2 separate regions of the Homo sapiens genome follow, and region 2 is linked to region 1. Evidence: fine-mapped expression QTL. A gene starts in region 1. The other region holds a variant in brackets. All regions are shown on one strand. Distances are between the middles of the regions.

The links.
Region 2: its variant is fine-mapped to the expression of NUCB1 in esophagus mucosa (GTEx, PIP above 0.99).

The regions. Positions count from the first base shown.
Region 1 is chr19:48,895,249-48,905,263 of GRCh38, reverse strand. It overlaps NUCB1 (nucleobindin 1), which reads right to left and starts at 4,952. Exons shown (of 13, transcript NM_006184.6): 1 at 4,892-4,952; 2 at 4,333-4,478; 3 at 810-917. The coding sequence starts at 4,467. It overlaps TULP2 (TUB like protein 2), which reads left to right and starts at 6,520. Exons shown (of 13, transcript NM_003323.3): 1 at 6,520-6,674; 2 at 7,395-7,427; 3 at 7,868-7,919; 4 at 8,708-8,834; 5 at 9,761-9,898. The coding sequence starts at 7,396. RefSeq lists a cis regulatory region at 5,776-6,775, enhancers at 6,310-7,125, 9,573-10,015 and a silencer at 9,007-9,146.
Region 2 is chr19:48,921,999-48,932,059 of GRCh38, reverse strand. NUCB1 (nucleobindin 1) reads right to left here. Exons shown (of 13, transcript NM_006184.6): 13 at 8,688-9,742. The coding sequence ends at 9,636. Among named protein-coding and RNA genes, the nearest start is that of DHDH, 6.7 kb to the left of the region's middle. RefSeq lists a silencer at 4,854-5,148 and an enhancer at 8,825-9,324. The variant C/A (reference allele first, on the strand shown) is at 6,569.

The sequences.
Region 1 (10,015 bases):
CCAGCACCTCCCTTATTTTGAATTCTTCCTCTGTAGAAGGCACCATAGGAGCATTCTGTTGACGCAGCCCTCCCACAACACTTGCTAAGGAGTGTCACCATGCTCTTCCAAACCCTTTACACATCTTCCTTTGGAAAATCCAAACCCCAAAATCCTTCCCTTGGAAAATCCAAATCCGAACTGTGCAGCAGGTTCTATGATGTCTCCCATTTTACAGGTGGGGAAACTGAGGCACGGTGAGGGGAGGCCCCATAGCTGGTAAGCGGCGGAGCTGCGACTGAAAGCCTGCCCACGGGACTCTGCACTAAACACGTATTCTGTGTTCCCCAAAGCTCTTCCCAGCTTGTGACCCCAAGAAGCAACTTCTCCCTGAGTCTTACTTTGGTGATTTTCAAATACAGGCACAGCTGGAGCCATGTGGCCCCTTTGAAGAAACCAGTATGGTCAGGCATGGTGGCTCATGCCTGTAATCCCAACACTTTGGGAAGCCGAGATGGGAGGATCACGAGGTCAGGAGTTCGAGACCAGCCTGGCCAACATGGTGAAACCCCGTCTCTACTAAAAATACAAAAATTAGTCAGGCATGGTGGTGTACGCCTGTAATCCCAGCTACTTGGGAGGTTGAGGCAGGAGAACTGCTTGAACCTGCGGGGTGGAGGTGCAGTGAGCTGAGATCGCACCATCGCACTCCAGCCTGGGTGACAGAGCAAGACTCCGTCTCAAAAAAAAAAAAAAAGAAACCAGTCCTCCCCTGAACTCTGCCCTCCCAGCACGTACCCCTCCCACAGCCCCCACTCCCCCAGCCGCACCTTGATGTCCTCCGCATTGGCAGCCTGCAGCTTCTCTCGGAAATGCCCATCCGTCTCCAGTACATCGATGACCTCCTGGAGGTACCGGTGGTAGTACAGGCCTGTGTCCTGAGGCAACAAGGACAGACATAGCAGCCCCTGCTCCCATCCCCATCCCCACCCTCACTCCTGTTACTGCTATGGCCTGCTCCCTGGGGCAGCTGACAAGGGACTCAGTTTTTACCTTTTCCCACATATGCAGCAAAGATGAAATGAAAATCACATCAGTGAACACCCAGCCCAATACTGCCCAGAGTGGGTGCTCAGAGTGGACATGACTTGTTGGGAAGCTGTGAATCATACTTTTATCCATCCATCCAACCATCCATCCATCCATGCATCCACCCATTCATCCATGCATCCACCCACCCATCCATCCATACATCCCACCCACCCATCCATACATACATCCTACCCACCCATCTATCCACCCATCATCCATCCATCCATCCACCCATCCATCCACTCATCCATCCATCCACCCACCCACCCATCCATCCATCCATCCACCCATCCATCCATCCACCCACCCATCCATCCATCCATCCATCCATCCACTCATCCATCCATCCATCCACTCATCCACCTGCCCATCCATCCACCCACCTATCCATCCATCCATCCATCTATCCATCCATCCATCCACTCATCCACCCACCCATCCATCCACCCGCCCATCCATCCACTCATCCATCCATCCACCCACCCATCCATCCATCCACCCACCCATCCATCCATCCACTCATCCACCCACCCATCCATCCACCCGCCCATCCATCCAACCACCCGTCCATCCATCCATCCACTCATCCACCCACCCATCCATCCACCCGCCCATCCATCCACTCATCCATCCATCCACCCACCCATCGATCCATCCACCCACCCATCCATCCATCCACTCATCCACCCACCCATCCATCCACCCGCCCATCCATCCACCCGCCCATCCATCCAACCACCCATCCATCCATCCATCCACTCATCCACCCACCCATCCATCCACCCGCCCATCCATCCAACTGCCCATCCATCTACCCACCCGCCCATGCATGCATTCATTCATTCAACAAACATTCACCAGGCCCCTATCATATGCCAGGCACTGTGAACAACACAGACAAAAGTCCCAGGCCTCCTAGTCCCACCCCCGTCATGCGTAGCTGGGTGGGACTTTACTCTCCCTGGGCCTTCTATGCTCTTACTATTTATAAAATAGGCAATATATCCTCTGCCTCCCAGAGTTGTGGTGAAAAGCAAATAAGATAAGTTGGAAAAAATAAATAAATAAAATTACAAAAGAGAGAAGGCCAGGCATGGTAGCTCATGCCTGTAATCCCAGTGCTTTGGGAGGCTGAGGTAGGAGGATCACTTGAGCCCAGGAGTTCAAGGCTGCAGTGAGGTATGATCCTGCCACTGCGCTTCAGCCTGGGCACCAGCACAAGACCCTGTCTATTAAACATATATATATATATATACATTCTTTACCTCTTTACCTAGTCTCACAAGATCCCACATGATCCACATAATCCCCCTCTCCCCTCCCTCTCACTCTCCCTGCTCCAGCCACAGCAGCCTCCTTGACGTCCTCAACTTGCTCTGCTTTCTCCTACCAAGTGGCCTTTGCTCATGCTGTTCCCTCTGCCTGGAATGCTCTTCCCCTCACTTCCTCTCTTCCTTGCTCTTGACTTAACATATCTCTCCAGTTCAGAACTCAGTGGCTCACACCTATTATCCCAGCACTTTGGGAGGCCGAGGCGGGCAAATCACTTGAACTCAGGAGTTCGAGACTAGCCTGGGCAGTATAATGACACCCTGTCTCTATCAAAAATACAAAAAAAATTAGCTAGGCATGGTGGCACATGCCTGCAGTCCCAGCTACTCCAGAGGCTGAGGCAGGAGGATCGCTTGAGTCTGGGAGATGGAGATTGCAGTGATTGCACCACTGCACTCCAGCTTGGGTGACACAGCAAAAATAAAAAAAAAAAAAAAAAAGAAAAAGGAAAAGAAAAAATGAGGTGGCTCATGCCTGTAATCCCACCACTTTGGGAGGCCGAGGCAGGCAGATCAAGAGGTCAAGAGATCGAGACCATCCTGGCCAACATGGTGAAACTCCGTCTCTACTAAAAATACAAAAATTAGATGGGCGTGGTGGTGTGCGCCTGTAGTCCCAGCTACTCGGGAGGCTGAGGCAGGAGAATCACCTGAACCTGGGAGGCAGAGGTTGCAGTGAGCCAAGATTGCACCACTGCACTCCAGCCTGGTGACAGAGCGAGAAAGAAAGAAAGAACTCAACTCACGCCTCCCTTCCTCCCTGACTGTCACCCCTGGTGTTCACTCTCATAGAGCCCTGCCCTTTGTCTTCCATCTCCCAGTGAGCAGGGATAGTCCATGGGCATGGGGCATGCACATGGCTGGGCCCTAACAACTATGCAACACATAGGCAACACTATGCCCGGCTCATAGAAGGTGCTCAGGAAACATGTGGAATGGAAGAAAAGAAATGGGACTCAACAAAGCCTTCCTGGGTCTGCAAGGATTTCACAGAATAGAGGCCTAACTTGCAGCGTGGGGACCAGGAACATGCAATGATCCGTTCCAGGGGGTAATGACTAGCCCATTCTTTGTTTTTTGAGACAGTCTCAGAAAACAGAGTCTCAGCTCTGTTGCCCAGGCTGGAGTGCAATGGCGTGACCTTGGCTCACTGCAACCTCCACCTCTCTTGGTTCCAGCACGAGAATTCGTGCCTCAGCCTCCCAGAGTAGCTGGGATTATAGGCGTGAGCCACCACGCCCAGCTAATTTCTGCATTTTTGGTAGAGATGGGGTTTTGCCATGTTGGCCAGGCTGGTCTTGAACTCCTGACCTCAAGTGATCCGCCTGTCTCGGCCTCCCAAAGTGCTAGGATTACAGGCATGAGCCACTGCGCCTGGCCTGACCAGCCTATCCTTATGGGGAGCTATAGGAAGATTCGGACCACAAGACACTCACTGACCTTCAGGATCTCCAAAGTTCCAAATCCCTTAAGACCAAAGCTTTTATTGGGTTTGATAAACACATGTAGGAATTAATAAACAAGCAGTTCACCCGCCCTTCTGTAATTTAAACTACAACTCCCAAGAGCACCATGAAGTCAGAATACCCCAGCTAGCCAACATCAACTGCTACTGGGAACTAGCAACATGGTGCTACTGGGAAATGTAGTTTTGTTTGTTTGTTTTCAAATTCCTTCTTGGGTGGAGAGAATCTTAAAAAAACAGACGTTTAGTTGGGGCGTGATGCAGATTTTCCACACCTCAGAGTCAGGGACCTCCAGTTTTTCACCAAGTCAAACCCCTGCTGCTGGGAGGAATGGTGGGCAAAAAACAAGCTACAACTGTAGGGCCAGGAAGTCACTGGAGCATCCGCCCTACGGGCACCGGGGTCTGCAGGAGCTGTAGTACCACTGCAAACACCTGGCTGGATAGCAGGGCAGGGCCACTCACGGGACTCTCAGTCGCAGGGGTCTCCTCCTTGTTGGGCGCCCCTCGCTCCAGGGGGACAGCCAGCACGGCGCGAAGCAGGAGCAGCAGCAGCAGCGGCAACAGAAGGAGGGTTCCTCGGGGCCCAGAGGGAGGCATGGCAGTGTGGTCTGTGGGGGATGGAGGGCTGGATAATGCATAATGTCTGTCCCAAGCCTCTTCCTCCCCTGGAACCAGGAGTTCGGGCCCCCAGCGCCGCCCCCACTTCCAAGAATCAAGACACAAGCATTTTGTTACCCAGGCCCCAGGATTCCAGGCCTCCGGCCTTCCCTTCCTCCGACACAGGAGTCTGGGCCCTCAGACCCAGGGGTCCTGGCTCCCAACACGCTCCTCTCTCACACTCAGGAATCCGGGATCTCGGCCGCCTCCTCCCCCAGACCCAAGAGTCCAGGGTCCCAGCCTCCTCTTTTCCCAGGACCTAAAGTACTGGCACCCAGTGCATCCTCCTCCGGGACCCAGTTTTCCAGCCCTCTGGCCCCCATCCTCCCTAGGACCCAAGAGTATGGGAACCCTGGCCTCTCACCTCTCCTTCACCGCAGAGGGCGTTTTCCAGGGCGGGCAAGGACCTCCGGTGCGTTCTTGGTGACTTCCCCCCTAGACCACGCCCACTTATCCACAGAGGCCCCGCCCCAAAGAGGTCTGATTGGTCCACGCTGGCTCTGTAGCTTTCATCCACGTCCAGCGGCCCCGCCCCTTGCCGAAGCCGCTCGCATTTTCGTGAAAGCCTCGCTTCTTTCTCGGAATCCCAGCCTCTTGACGCCACATTTCCCGCCTATGCCAAAAGAGAGAGAAGGCTTTCAAAGATAACTACAACTCCCTGCCGGCCGGGGGAAAAATAACTTCCGCGGGCATCGTGGCCCCTTCGCCTCATGGGAGCTGTAGTTTTCCCATTTATTTTCGCCCCACGAAGTGCCTGGAAGTTATAGCGCGGTAGCAATTGCATAGCCTTTCTTATGAGTTTCTTTCTTCTTCTTCTTATTATTCGAGACAGGGTTTGCTCTGTCACCCAGGTTGGAGTGCAGTGGCGCAATCACTTCTCACTGCAGCCTCTACCTCCCAGGCCCAAGCAATCCTCCCGCGTCAGCCTCCCAAGTAGATGGGACCACAGGCCACACTACCATGCCTGGCTAATGTATATTTTTTAAATTTTTAATACAAATATTTAAATCTTTAATTCTTTTTTAGCCTTTTTTTTTTTTTAACGTTCTGTCTTTCACACTTCTCACACTTTGTTGTTGTTGTTTTTTAAAGAGACGGATGTCAAGCCGGGCTTGGGGGTTCACTCCTGTAATCCCAGCACTTTGGGAGGCTGAGGCAGGCAGATCACCTGAGGTCAAGGGTTTGAGACCAGCCTGGCCAACATGGAGAAACCTCGCCTCCACTAAAAATACAAATTAGCCAGGCGTGGTTGCGCATGCCTGTAATCCCAGCTACTCAGGAAGCTGAGGCAGGACAATCTCTTAAACCCGGGAGGCGGAGGTTGCAGTGAGCCGAGATCGCGCCACTGCACTCCAGCCTGGGCGACAGAGTGAGACTACGTCTCAAAAAAAAAAAAAAATCTCTGTGTTGCTGGTCTGGATCTGGATCTCCTGGACTCAAGCAATCTTGCCTCCCCGTCTCCGCCTCCCAAAGTGCTGGGATTACAGGCGTGAGCCACTGCGCCCCGCCTCTTTTAAGTTTCTTGTAAGCGAGATGTGTACAGTGAGGCCGCGAGGTCTCTGGTCTCCCGCTCTCTCTCTCTCTTTTTTTTTTTTTTTTTGAGACGGTGTCTACCTCTGTCACACAGGCTGGAGTGCAGTGGCGCGATCTCAGCTCACTGCGAGCTCCGCCTCCCGGGTTCACGCCATTCTCCTGCCTCAGCCTCCCGAGTAGCTGGGACTACAGGCGCCCGCCCGCCACAACGCCCGGCTAATTTTTTTGTGTATATATATATATTTTTTTTTAGTAGAGACGGGGATTCACCATGTTAGCCAGGATGGTCTAGATCTCCTGACCCCGTGATCCGCCCGCCTCGGCCTCCCAAAGTGCTGGGATTACAGGCGTGAGCCACCGCGCCGGGCCGGTCTCTGGTCTCTTTAAGGAACCCCCACACGGCATTCGTGTTCAGAACCCCCGGAGCAGGGTTGCCTGGCTGCATCAGTGACCGAGTTCGTTACTTTGTTGGAAGTGGAGAGTGGAGGGTCAGAAGGGAGTGGACCAGTTCAGGTCCCAGAGGGAATCCTCCCTCCCTCTGAGCCGTCTTTCTTCTCCTCCCTATTTCGCAGATATCCCGAGATTAGGTCCCCAGCTTCCAAAGAGAGGATCAGGTATGTTTAGAGATTGGCCAGAGAGGCAAGGTACCGAGGCATCAATGTGAGCAGCCTCTCCAGGCACCTGGTGAGGAGAACAAGTCTCCCGGATCCCAGGCAGGTGGGCAGTGGAGTTCTAGGCCGCTGGGGGCTGGGTGTTTGAAGTGCACAGTCCTGAGTTCTGATGCCTGGGTGCTGGAGAATTAGATATTTGGGGGAGAGAGAAGCGGACTTGCGGACCCCCGTGGGAAGCTGGAAACAGGCTACTAGATCCCGACAGGAGTGGGTGCTGGGATTCGGGCTGCCTGGGTCCGGAAGCAAATTTAAAGGTAAGGATCAGGCCGGGCACTGTGGCTCATGCCTGTAATCCTAGCACTTTGGAAGGCCAAGGCGGGCAGATCACCTGAGGTCAGGAGTCCGGCACCAGCCTGGCCAACATAGTGAAAACCGGTATCTACTAAAATACAAAAAAATTAGGCAGAATAGCGGACGCCTGTAGTCCCAGCTACTCGGGAGGCTGAGGCAGGAGAATCGCTTGAACCCAGGAGGTGGAGGTTGCAGTGGCCGAGATGGCGCCACTGCACTGCAGCCTGGGCGACAGAGCGAGGCTCAGCTGTCTCTAAATACATAAATAAATAAATAAATAAATAAATAAATAAGGCTAAAGATTAGGTGCTGGTGGGCAGGATCCATTGGGATGTTGGTTCTGATCCTGACTCCTCATTCTTGCTTCTGCAGAATGTCTCAGGATAATGACACATTGATGAGAGAGTGAGTAGGGAAACAGATGGGTAGGGGTGGAGGTGGAAAGGGCTGGGGACCCCGTGCACTCGGCTCTGGCTTCATAACCATGTTTGCAGGTTCAGCACCATCGGCCTTGCAGGAAGGGGCTGGGGACCTGGACTCCTGTGTCCTGAAGGGATGGGGCTAGGGTGCAGACTTCTGGGTCTGAAAGAGAAGGGGTTGGGGGCCCCAGACTCCTGAATCCTGAGACAGGAGGGACCTGGGATCTCTGGGTCCCGGCTTCTGTGGGCCAGTGCCAGGAGAAAGGGCCCTATAACTGGTGGAGCAGGCTCAGGTTCTGCACCTCCTGTGACCTCACAGGTGCCCAGAACCCAAGCTGAGATAGGGGCAGGATGGGGGAAGGAGGGACTCTCTTGGGCAACCGAGGTTCCCTGTGCACTGTCACCATGGGCCTGTGTCTCTCTCAGCATCCTGGGGCATGAGCTCGCTGCTATGAGGCTGCAGAAGCTGGAACAGCAGGTATTGTGCCCAGGAATCTCACCACTCCAACTCTTCCGCCTTCTGTGCCTCCCCAGGGGCCTCTCCACCAGGTCTTGCTCTAGGACTCCCAGCCCGTGTTGGCTGTCTCTCATCCTTGAGTTTTCCCACTGAGAAATGAGAAAATAGGAATTTGGGGCCGGGCAGGGCAGCTCACGGCTGTAATCACAGCACTTTGGGATGCTGAGGTGGGCGGATCACTTGAGGTCAGGAGTTCAAGACAAGCCTGGCCAACACGGCGAAACCCCGTCTCTACTAACACACAAAAAATTAGCCAGGTGTGGTGGCAGGCGCCTGTAATCCCAGCTACTCGGGAGGCTGAGGCAGGAGAATCGTTTGAATCCGGGAGGCGGAGGCTGCAGTGAGCGGAGATCGTGGTACTGCACTCCAGCCTGGGCGATAGAGCCAGACTCTGTCTCAAAAAGAAAAAAAAAAAGTAAGAAAGGAAAAAGAAAAGAAAATAGGAATTGGGGGTTCTAAAGAAGCAAACAAACCCTTGTGATGAATTTCTAAGGAACAAGGCTTCTAGAAGGCAGGACTCCTGGGTCCTGGGGGATGAGAGGACAGGGTGTCAGGACTCTTGGATCTGAGTCCAACGGTGGAATAAGGGAGGAGCTGCTGAAGAACTGAGGGCCTGGACGTGTGGGCCCCAGTGGAGGAAGGGGTTCACGAACTCTCGCGCCGATGCGAGCCCTTGCCCCAGGCCCCACCTCACTTCTGTCTTCCCATCTGGTTCCTGTCCCGGACACCCACCTCTCCCATCTCCCCAGCGGCGGCTGTTTGAAAAGAAGCAGCGACAGAAGCGCCAGGAGCTCCTCATGGTTCAGGCCAATCCTGACGCTTCCCCGTGGCTTTGGCGCTCTTGTCTGCGGGAGGAGCGCCTTTTAGGTGACAGAGGTGACCAAAGACCCCTGGGGGCGTTCGCCTGGAGGGGAGGGGCCTGTGGGAGTCTGTGGGCGGGGCCTAGTGGATGAAGGGGTGGAGCCTTAGGGTGGGGACTTGGCAGTGGATGGGGGCGGGCCTTGGCCCAGGAGAGCTTTAGAACAGGGCCTGTGGGCGCCCAGGGGAGAGGCTTGTGGGGGCCCCCCGCGGCAGGACCTGTGAGGGAGGGGTTCGGGGCAGGGCTACAGAGCGCAGGGGCGGGGCATGGTACAACTAGCAGGGGAAAGGGGCAAGAGAATGTGATGATTGGGCTTGGCAGAGCTCGGTGGTGGAGCCTGGGAAAGCCGGGACCCCCACCCCAAACCCGGGATTGCGGAGACGGGGTCTAGGGGTCCGGGGCGGGGCGCGGTCTCATTACGAGAGCCTGGCGCGAGATTCTTTACGTGCGGAGCCCGCAACAATCCAGCGGCAGGGCTGTGCTTGTTTGAGGCTTAGGATGCAGTTTGGGACCTGGGTCTCAAGGTTTGGGCGGTCCGCGAAACAGGGTGATTTTTTTTTCTTTTTTGAGACGGAGTTTAGCTCTTGTTGCCAAAGCTGGAGTACAATGGCAGGATATCGGCTCACCGCAACCTCCGTCTCCCGGGTTCAAGCGATTCTCCTGCCTCAGCCTCCCGAGTAGCTGTGATTACAGGCATGCGCCACCAAGCCCGGCTAATTTTGTGTTTTTAGTAGAGACGGTGTTTCTCCATGTTGGTCAGGCTGGTCTCGAACTCCCGACCTCAGGTGATCCGCCTGCCTCGGCCTCCCAAAGTGCTGGGATTACAGGCGTGAGCCACGGCGCCTGGCGGGGGTGATATTTGGGAGCCCAGTGACGGGGTGGATTTTGGTTGAGGACCGGAATTTGTAGATCGTTTTCATGGGCTCGCTGAACCTTCTCCCAGGCCTTGGGAACCCTTTCCTCCGGAAGAAAGTGTCAGAGGCACATCTGCCCTCTGGCATCCACAGTGCCCTGGGCACCGTGAGCTGTGGTGGAGACGGCAGGGGCGAGCGCGGCCTCCCGACACCGCGGACAGAAGCAGGTATTTGCGAGTCCACCGACCTCCTAGACCCCAGAACTCCGTCCCCACTAAAACCCAGGAGTCTGGTGCCTCAATCCATCTGTCCAAAATACTCAGGAGCTCAGGACCGCACCCACT
Region 2 (10,061 bases), 27 kb before region 1:
GCAACCTCCACCTCCCAGTTTCAAGCAATTCTCCTACCTCAGCCTCCCGAGTAGCTGGGATGACAGGCGCCCACTACCACGCCCGACTAATTTTTGTATTTTTACTAGAGATGGGGTTTCACTGTGTTGGCCAGGCTGGCCTCGAATTCCTGACCTCAGGTGATCCGCCTGCCTTGGCCTCCCAAAGTGCTGAGATTACCTGCATGAGCCACCATGCCCAGCAATTTTTTGTACAGAAAAGGTCTCACTTTGTTGTCCAGGCTGGTCTCCAATTCCTGGGCTCAAGCAATCCTCCTGCCTCAGCCTCCCAAAGTGCTGGGATTATAGGTATGAGACACTGTGTCCAGTCGATTTTTAAACTTTTTATCAAGGCAGGGTCTTGCCAAGTTTCCCAGGCTGGTTGGGACATGATAATTCCTAACTGGCTGGCCAGCTTCACACAGGGCAGGATATTGTCACTTTCTCTTACTTGGTAGACAATAATTAAGACCTGAGTGTCACACATGGATTCACAGACTTCAAGTTTACACAAACTGCTGAATAGAAACACAAATGGGACCAGGCACGGTGGTTCACGCCTGTAATCCCAGTACTGTGGGAGGCCCAAATGGGAGGAATGCTTGAAGCCAGGACTTTGAGACCAGCCTGGGCAACAAAGCAAGACCCCATCTCTACCAAAAAAAAAAAGTGGGGGGAGGGGGCAGGGCATAGTGGCTCATGCCTGTAATCCTAGCACTTTGGGAGGCCGTGGTGGGCGGATCACTTAAGGTCAGGAGTTCGAAACCAGCCTGGCAAACATGGTGAAACCCCCATCTCTACTAAAAATACAAAATAATTAGCCAAGCATGGTGGCGGACGCCTGCAATCCCAGCTTCTTGGGAGGCTGAGGCAGGTAAATTGCTTGAACCTGGGAGGAGGAGGTTGCAGTGAGCCAAGATCGCACCACTGCTCTCCAGCCCGGGTGACAGAGAGAGACTCTGTCTCAAAAAAAAAAAAAAAAAAAAAAAAAGGTTTAGGGGGAGGGAAATCCACATAGGACACAATATCATTACTATGAAGAAAAAGAAAAAATCATTTAATAATAAATATCAAAAAATAATTTTGATACTCCCAGGTATTTGTCCTAGAAAGAAAAAATAACATGTTTGCACACAAACCAGTGCACAGGTGTTAGCAGCTGTACATAGCTCAAGCCCAAATGTCCTTTAAGCTGCCAGTGGATTCAACAAAATACTACTCAGCGGCCAGGCACAGTGGCTCACACCTGTAATCCCAGCACTTTGGGAGGCCAAGATGGGTGGATCACCAGGTCAGGAGATCAAGACCATCCTGGCTAACACGGTGAAACCCCATCTCTACTAAAAATACAAAAAATTAGCCAGGCGTGGTGGCGGGCACCTGTAGTCTGGAGGCTGAGGCAGGAGAGTGGCGTGAGCCTGGGAGGCAGAGGTTACAGTGAGCCGAGATCACACCACTGCACCCCAGCCTGGGCAACAGAGGAAGACCCGGTCTAAAAAAAAAAATATATATATATAATATATATATATATTTTTTTTTTGAGATGAAGGTTTGCTCTGTCACCCAGGCTGGAGTGCAGTGGTTCGATCTCAGCTCACTGCAAGCTCTGCCTCCCGGGTTCACGCCATTCTCCTGCCTCAGCCTCCCAAGTAACTGGGACTACAGGCGCCCACCACCACGCCTGGCTAATTTTTTGTATTTTTAGTAGAGACAGGGTTTCACTGTGTTAGCCAGGATGGTCTTGATCTCCTGACCTCGTGATCCGCCCTCCTCGGCCTCCCAAAGTGCTGGGATTACAGGCGTGAGCCACTGCGCCCGGCCTAAAATTATTACTTTCTTATTGCTGCACTCCAGCACCTCAGAGGAGGCAAAAAGGTAAACACTGAAAAGAAAATATGCCGGGCACGGTGGCACATGCCTGTAATCCCAGCACTTTGGGAGACTGTGGCGGGCAGATCTCTTGAGCCCAAGAGTTCGAGACCAACCTGCAAAAAATTAGCCAGGTGTGGTGGTGTGCATCTGTATTCCCAGCTACTAGGGAGGCTGAAGCGGGAGGATCGCTTGAGCTGGGAAGGTTGAGGCTGCAGTAAGCTATGATGGCACCTCTGTACTCCAGCCTGGGCAACAGAGTGAGACTCTGTCTCAAAAAAGAAAAAAGAGGGCGGGCGTAGTGGCTCACGCCTGTAATCCCAGCACTTTGGGAGGCCGAGGCGGGCGGATCACCTGAGGTCAAGAGTTTGAGACCAGCCTGGCCAACAGGGTGAAACCCCATCTCTACTAAAAATACAAAAATTAGCTGGGCGTGGTGGTGTGCACCTGTAATCCCAGCTACTTGGGAGGCTGAGGCACTGGAATCGCTTGAACCCAGGAGGCAGAGCTTGCAGTGAGCCGAGATCACGCCACTGCACTCTAGCCCGGGCAACAGAGTGAGACTCTGTTGCCCAGGAAAAAAAAGAAAAAAAAAAAAAAGAAAAAGAAAAAAGAAGAAAAAGAAAATGCTGTGGGGCGCTGCCATGTGGAAAGACATTTGGGAAAGGCTAAAAGAACCCACTGCACACTTAATGGTATATCACATGTCAGTACCCGGTCAGACTCGCCTCTGGTAACATGGAGGTAGACACTCTAGCAAGAATTAGAACACTGGGTCCCTCACAATCCTCAAGGGCTTGGAGCAACTCAGTATTGTGTATAGACTGCAGATTTCCCTTACCATATAATCTTCAAGTGGCAGGATTGATTAAAAAGAAAAATGGCCAGGCGCGGTGGCTTACGCTTGTAATCCCAGCACTTTGGGAGGCCGAGGTGGTCGGATCACGAGGACAGGAGATCAAGACCATCCTGGCTAACACAGTGAAACCCCATCTCTACTAAAAATACAAAAAATTAGCCGGGCATGGTGGCGGGCGCCTGTAGTCCCAGCTACTCAGGAGGCTGAGGCAGGAGGATGGCGTGAACCCGGGAGGCAGAGCTTGCAGTGAGCCGAGATCACGCCACTGCACTCCAGCCTGGGTGACACAGCAAGACTCTGCCTCAAAAAAAAAAAGAAAGAAAGAAAGAAAGAAAAATGGCATTTAAAAAAATTTTTTTGCAGGTTTTATTTATTTATTTATTTATTTGAGACAAAGTCTGGCTCTGTTGCTCCAGCCTGGGTGACAGCGCCACACTCCGTCTCAAAAAAAAAACAGAAAATAAAATTTTTTTTTGTAGAGATGGTGTCTCACCATGTTGCCTAGGCTGGCCTCCAACTCTTGGGCTGAAGTGATCCTCCCACCTCGGCCTCCCAAAGCACTAGGCATGAGCCACCAAGCCTGGCCCAACTATCCATTATGCATAGTTGTAAAGCAAGTCTGGCCAGACGCATTTATACTGGAGCTGATAAAAGGCCAATGGTAAACACTATTTAGGATTTCCCAGAATCTTGAGCCAAGGGGAGGGGTTGGACTGGCAAATTCCCCAGACTGGATAGGGTGTTTCTTGTCAGAGGGCAAGAATTTCTCGGGCAGCTGCAGTGGTCTCCCTTGATCCTCTTGGGGTTGGGGCCAAAACAATCCACTTACCCCTACACTAGAACATGGTCCCTTTTTTTTTTTTTTTTTTTTTGGACGGAGTCTTGCTCTGTCACCCAGGCTGGAGTGCAGTGACACAATTTCAGCTCACTGCAACTTCCGCCTCCTGGGTTCAAGCGATTCTCCTGCCTCATGAGTAGCTGGGATTACAGGCGCCCATCACCACACCCAGCTAATTTTGTATTTTTAGTAGAAATGCGGTTTTACCATGTTGGCCGGGCTGGTCTCGAACTCGTGACCTCAAGTGATCCACCTGCTGCGGCCTCCCAAATTGCTGGGTTATAAGCGTGAGCCATTGTTCACAGGCTGAGTGACGTAGTTTAATGTTATTTATTTATTTATTTTTTAAGACGGAGTTTTGCTTTTGTTGTCCAGGCTGGAGTGCAATGGCGTGATCTCGGCTCACCGCAACCTCCACCTCCTGGGTTCAAGCGATTCTCCTGCCTCAGCCTCCTGAGCAGCTGGGATTACAGGCATGCGCCACCAGGCCCGGGTAATTTTGTATTTTCAGTAGAGACGGGGTTTCTCAACGTAGGTCAGGCTGGTCTCAGACTCCTGACCTCGGGTGATTCGCCTGCCTCAGCATCCCAAAGTGCTGAGATTACAGGCGTGAGCCACCGCGCCCAGCCTCGTGACTTTATTTTAAAATGCTACTCTGCCATGTGATTTTTTTCCTTTTTTAAGAGACGGGGTTTGTAATCTCAGCTACTTGGGAGGCTGAGGCAGGAGAATTGCTTGAACCCGGGAGGTGGAGGTTGCAGTGAGCCGAGACTGTGCCATTGCACTCCAGCCTGGGGGACACAGCAAGACTCCGTATCAAAAAAAAAAAAAAAAGAAAAAGAAAGAAACAGGGTTGGCTGGGCGTGGTGGCTCATGCCTATAATCCCAGCACTTTGGGAGGCAGAGGAGGGCAGATCACCTGAGGACAGGAGTTTGAGACCGGCCTGGCCAACATGGCGAAACCCTGTCTCTACTAAAAATACAAAAATTAGCTGGGCGTGGTGGGCGCCTGTAATCCCAGTTACTCAGGAGGCTGAGGCAGGAGAATCACTTGAACCCGGGAGGCGGAGGTTGCAGTGAGCCGAGATCGAGCCACCGGCAACAAGAGTGAGACTCTGTCTCAAAAAAAAAAAAAAAGAGACGGGGTTTCACTATGTTGCTCAGGCTGGTTTCAAACTCTTGGGCTCGAACGGTCTTCCTGCCTCAGCCTCCCAAAATGCTGGCATTATAGGCATGAGCCACTGCACCCAGCCTGCCGTGTGACTTCTGACTAACCCGAAACTGGGAATGCCTCCAACATGTCTAACGGATGTGTTACTCTTTATGTAGAAACACGTACTTACCAGCCTTTCCTCCAGAACAAGCCTTGATGTTGTCACATCCATCACAAGATGTATCGCCCATAGCCACCTACGCGTTTCTTCCAGAGCACAGATATGCTTTCCTCGAGATAGAAGCCCTGTGTCTGGGGGTTGCAGGGTGTGATCTATCTGTCTTGCTGCTGCCCAAGACCACACTTCTTTTTTTTTTTTTTCCAGACAGGGTCTTGCTTTGTAGCCCAGGCTGGAGTGCAGTGGCGTGAGCTCGGCTCACTGCAGTCTCCACCTCCCGGGTTCAAGTGATTCTCCTGCCTCAACCTCTCCAGTAGCTGGGATTACAGGCGCCCACCACCACACCTGGCTAATTTTTGTATTTTTAGTGGAGACAAGTTTCACCATGTCAGTCAGGCTGGTCTCGAACTCCTGACCCCAAGTGAGCCACCTGCCTCGGCCTCCCAAAGTGCTGGGATTCCAGGCATAAGCCACCATGCCTGGCGAAGACCACACTCTAAGTTTCCCCCTAATAAACCACCCTGTATTGACAAACTAGATGGGTCGGCCTCATTCTTTGGTTTCTTGGCTCCTTCGGCATTTGGGGACCGCTTTGCCTATATGAACCTTTCAAAGAACACCATTTAGGCCCGTTTTCCAGATTGGGTCACTGAAGCTCAACTCCCCTCATTTTCTGAGAGAGGCAAAGAGAGGCTGCAGCTGATGTTTGCTATGCTCATTGTTCAGGTGCAGCTGGGAGGGCATGACACACATATAGCTTCCCAGGACATTCCAGGATCTGGGAATATGTATTTTTGTTTTGTTTTGTTCTGAGACAGAGTCCCGCTTGGTCACCCAGGCTGATGTGCAGCGTTGCAATCACCGCTTCCCAGGCCCAAGCGATCCTTTCACCTCAGCCTCCCAAGTAGCTGGGACTACAGGCATGTGCCACCACACCCAGCTAATTTTTTTTTTTTTCTTGAGATGGAGTCTTGCTCTGTCACCCAGGCTGGAGTACAGTAGTGTGATCTTGGCTCACTGCAACCTCTGCCTCCCAGGTTCAAGTGATTCTTGTGCCTCAGCCTCCCTGAGTAGCTGGGATTACAGGTGTACACCACCACGCCCGGCTAATTTTGGTATTTTTTTGTAGAGACGGGGTTTCACGTTGCCCAGGCTGGGCTTGAATTCCTGCCCTCAAGTGATCCGCCCACATCAGCCTCCCAAAGTGCTGGGATTATAGTTGTGAGTGACTGCGCCTGGCCCTATTTATTTATTTTTTTACATAGAGATGGGGTCTCCCTATATTGCCCAGGTTGGCCTCAAACTCCTGGGCTCAAAGGATCCTTCCTCCTTGGCCTCCTGAAGCGTTGGGATTATAGGCATCAGCCACTGTGCCCGGCCTATTTATTTTTCTCGAGAAAGGGTCTTGCCCTGTCTCCCAGGCTGGAGTGCAGTGGCGTGGTCATGGCTCACTGTAGCCTTAACCTTCTGTGGCCAAGCGATTCTTCTGTCCTTAAGCCTCCTGAGTAGCTGGGACCACAGGTGCATGCCACAACACCCGGCTAATTTTTTTTTTTTTTTTTTTTTTTTTTTTAGAGATGAGGTCTTGCTATGTTGCTCAGGCTGGTCTTGAGCTCTGAGCTTGAGTCATCCTCCTGTCATCCTCTCCTGAAA[C/A]CCCCCACCCTGCCCATCCCTGGCCTCCAAAGTGCTGAGCTTATAGGCATGAACCACTGTGCCTGGCCAGAATTTCATTTAAACAAATACTCCTGGCCGGGCGTGGTGGCTCAGGCCTGTAATCCCAACACTGTGGGAGGCCGAGGCGGGGGGATCACCTGAGGTCAGGAGTTCTCAAGACCAGCCTGACCAACATGGTGAAAGCCCCATCTCTACTAAAAATACAGAAAAATTAGCCGGGTGTGTGCTGGGCACCTGTAATCCCAGCTACTCAGGAGACTGAGGCAGGAGAATCGCTTGAACCCAGGAGGCAGAGGTTGCAGTAAACCGAGATCGCGTCATCGTACTCCAGCCTGGGAGACAGAGCAAGACTCTGTCTCCAAAAACAAAACAAAACAAAAACAAATATTCCCCGCTTGCTTTTTACCAGACCCCAACTTGGTCCAAGGAAAGCATCCCCATCCCAGGTGAGGATGAAATCACCACTGGTGGATGCCAGCTTGGTGGATCTGTCTGCAGCTGTCACTGACCTGTGCCTCACAGCCAGTGGGATATAAGGGAACATGAGGAGAGGGCTGAAAGGAGAGGGAACTCTGGGGACAGATTTTCTCCCACTTAACAATGCCCAGAACAGAATGCGGCCTCTTCCTTCACTGGCTGTTGGTGACATCTGGAGCAGCTGCAGCTACCTTGGGACCATGAGGGGGGGTCCAGCCCCCAAACCTATCCTTGGCACAGCTAGGGGATGCGAGAACCTGGTTCCCTGAAGTCATCCTGCCTTGGGACATCTTGGTTTTTATCATAATTCATTTTTATTTATTCTTTTTTCTATTAGAGACAGGGCCTCATTCTGTCACCCAGCCTGGAGTGCAGTGGAGTGATAGATCATGGCTCACTGCAGCCTCAAACTCCAGGGCTCAAGGGATCCTCCCACACCAGCCTCCTAAGCAGCTGAGACTACAGGCACACACTACCATGCCCAGCTAATTTTTTTTCTTTTTCTGAGACGGGGTCTCGCTATGTTGCCCAGGCTGGTCTCAAACTCCTAAGCTCAAGTGATCCTCTTGCCTCAGCCTTCTTTTTTTCAGACAGAGTCTCGCTCTGTCACCCAGGCTGGAGTGCAGTGGCATGATCTCGGCTCACTGCAACCTCTGCCTCCTGGGTTCAAGCAATTCTCCTGCCTCAGCCTCCTGAGTAGCTGGGACTACAGGTGCCTGCCACCACGCCCAGCTAATTTTTTTAGTATTTTTAGTAGAGAAAGGGTTTCACCGTGTTAGCCGGGATGGTCTCCATCTCCTGACCTCGTGATCTATCCGCCTCTGCCTTCTAAAGTGCTGGGACTACAGGTGGAGCCACCATACCTGGTACATTCTTTTTTTTTTTTTTGAGATGGAATCTTGCTCTGGTACTCCGGTTGGAGTGCAGTGGTGCAATCTTGGCTCGCTGCAACCTCCGCCTCCCAGGATCAAGCAATTCTCTTGCCTCAGCCTCCCGAGTAGCTGGGATTACAAGTGCCCACCACCACACCCGGCTCATCTTTGTATTTTTAGTAGAGATGGGGTTTTGCCATGTTGACCAGGCTGGTCTTGAACTCCTGGCCTCAAGTGATCCCCCCTATCTTGGCCTTTCGAAGTGTTGGGATTACAGGCGTGAGCCACAGCACCTGGCCAAATTCATCTTTTAAAAGTTGCTTAATCCCGGCCAGGTGCAGTGGCTCACTCCTGTAATCCCAGCACTTTGGGAGGCTAAGGTGGGCAGATCATGATGTCAGGAGTTCAAGACCAGCCTGGCCAATATGGTGAAACCCCCATCACTACTAAAACAATGCAAAAATTAGAAGGCCGGGCGTGGTGGCAGGCAGCTGTAATCCCAGCTACTCGGGAGGCGGAGGCAGGAGAATCGCTTGATCCCAAAAGGCAGAGGTTGCAGTGAGCTGAGATTACACCACTGCCCTCCAGCCTGGGTGACAGAGTAAGACTCCATCTCAAAAAAAAAAAAAAAAAAAATTGCTTAATCCCAGGTTTGGGTTTTCTGTCCTTGTGGCTGAAGGGACCCTGAGTGAAGGCTGCAGACTCATCAGGGGCAGATGGAAAAATACCAGGATTGAGCCTCTCAGAAGTGATGCTTGAATCCAGTCTTCAAAGATGAGGACTCCGGCAGGTGACGTGGCAATAGCGTTTTGGAGGGACCAGTCCAGATACACAGGCATGGAGCCATGCATTTGTTCCAGAAAGTGTATTTGGATGGAACCGGAACATGGAACAGGACACACAGCAGGATGCGGAGCAGTGTCAGATGAGGCCAGAAAGGTGGGTGGGACTGGTCTTCAGGGGCTCCAGATGAGGCTGAGGGGCTGGGCCTAGGTCCTGGAGTGGGGTCAGCTCTGGGACCCTTCTGGGGCTGTGTGGGGAAGGGGCTGGGGGCCAAGAGGTCCAGGAGGAGGCTGGCGATGAGATGGCTGGAAGCCAGGGGTTCAGGGAGGCCCAGGCTCCTGGTATCAGGGTTCACCGGCTATACTGAGGATCCCCTGCCCCTGGCACCCAGCTGTGGAGGGGACACTGTCTTTGAGGCATCACTGGTTCCACAAAAGGTAGGGGAAGGTCTTGAGGGACCACCCCATGCCCTCATTAATCAACCAGAAGCTTGGCCCGGAGCAGCAGCGGGGATTCCAGTAGCTGTGGGCATACAGGATGCTAGGGCGGCCACAACCCAGGCAGCTGAGGCCGAGCCACCTAGGAACGCAGGCTCAGAGCAGACCCTCTTGGGACAGACGGAGAAGGGGAGGGGGCGGGCTTCTCTAAGTTAAGCCGATCACTGAGCACCTCACTGGACACGAGAGAAGGCAAGCCCCTCGGAGGACAGAAGGGAAGAGCCACAGACTTGGAGGCTGTGAAAGTGGAGACAGGTGGACCTGGGGTGGCAGCAATGCGTGAAATGCCAGGCCGTGCCCCCGCCCCAGGAGCCCAACATGACACCAGCCCCCAGGGAAGCTGACTGTGCCACTTCATCCAGCGCCCATCAGTCGCCTTGGAGCATCAGGAATCCTGAGGGCTGGGGTCCCGGAGGATCACAGATGCTGGGGCACCTCAACCTCAGGGAGCCGCTCGAGAAGTTTCTTTTCTGAAGTGTCCACCTCCTTCTGGTCACCGGCTGGAGCTGGGACAGGTACATCGTCTGGAAATGGAGGGAGGGAATGGTGGCACAGGACATCCGAACCCCTCCTCCCCCAGGACCCCAGAGGCCCAGCCCCTCCTCCCTCACACCCAGGGGTCCAGCCCCCAGCCCCTCCTCCCTCACACCCAGGGGTCCAGCCCCCAGCCCCTCCTCACTCACACCCAGGGGTCCCAGCCCCTCCTCCCTCACACCCAGGGGTCCCAGCCCCCAGCCCCTCCTCCCTCAGACCCAGGAGTCCGGACCCCCAGTCCCTCTTCCCTCAGATCTGGGAGTCTGGGCCCCCAGTCCCTCTTCCCTCAGATCTGGGAGTCCAGGCCCA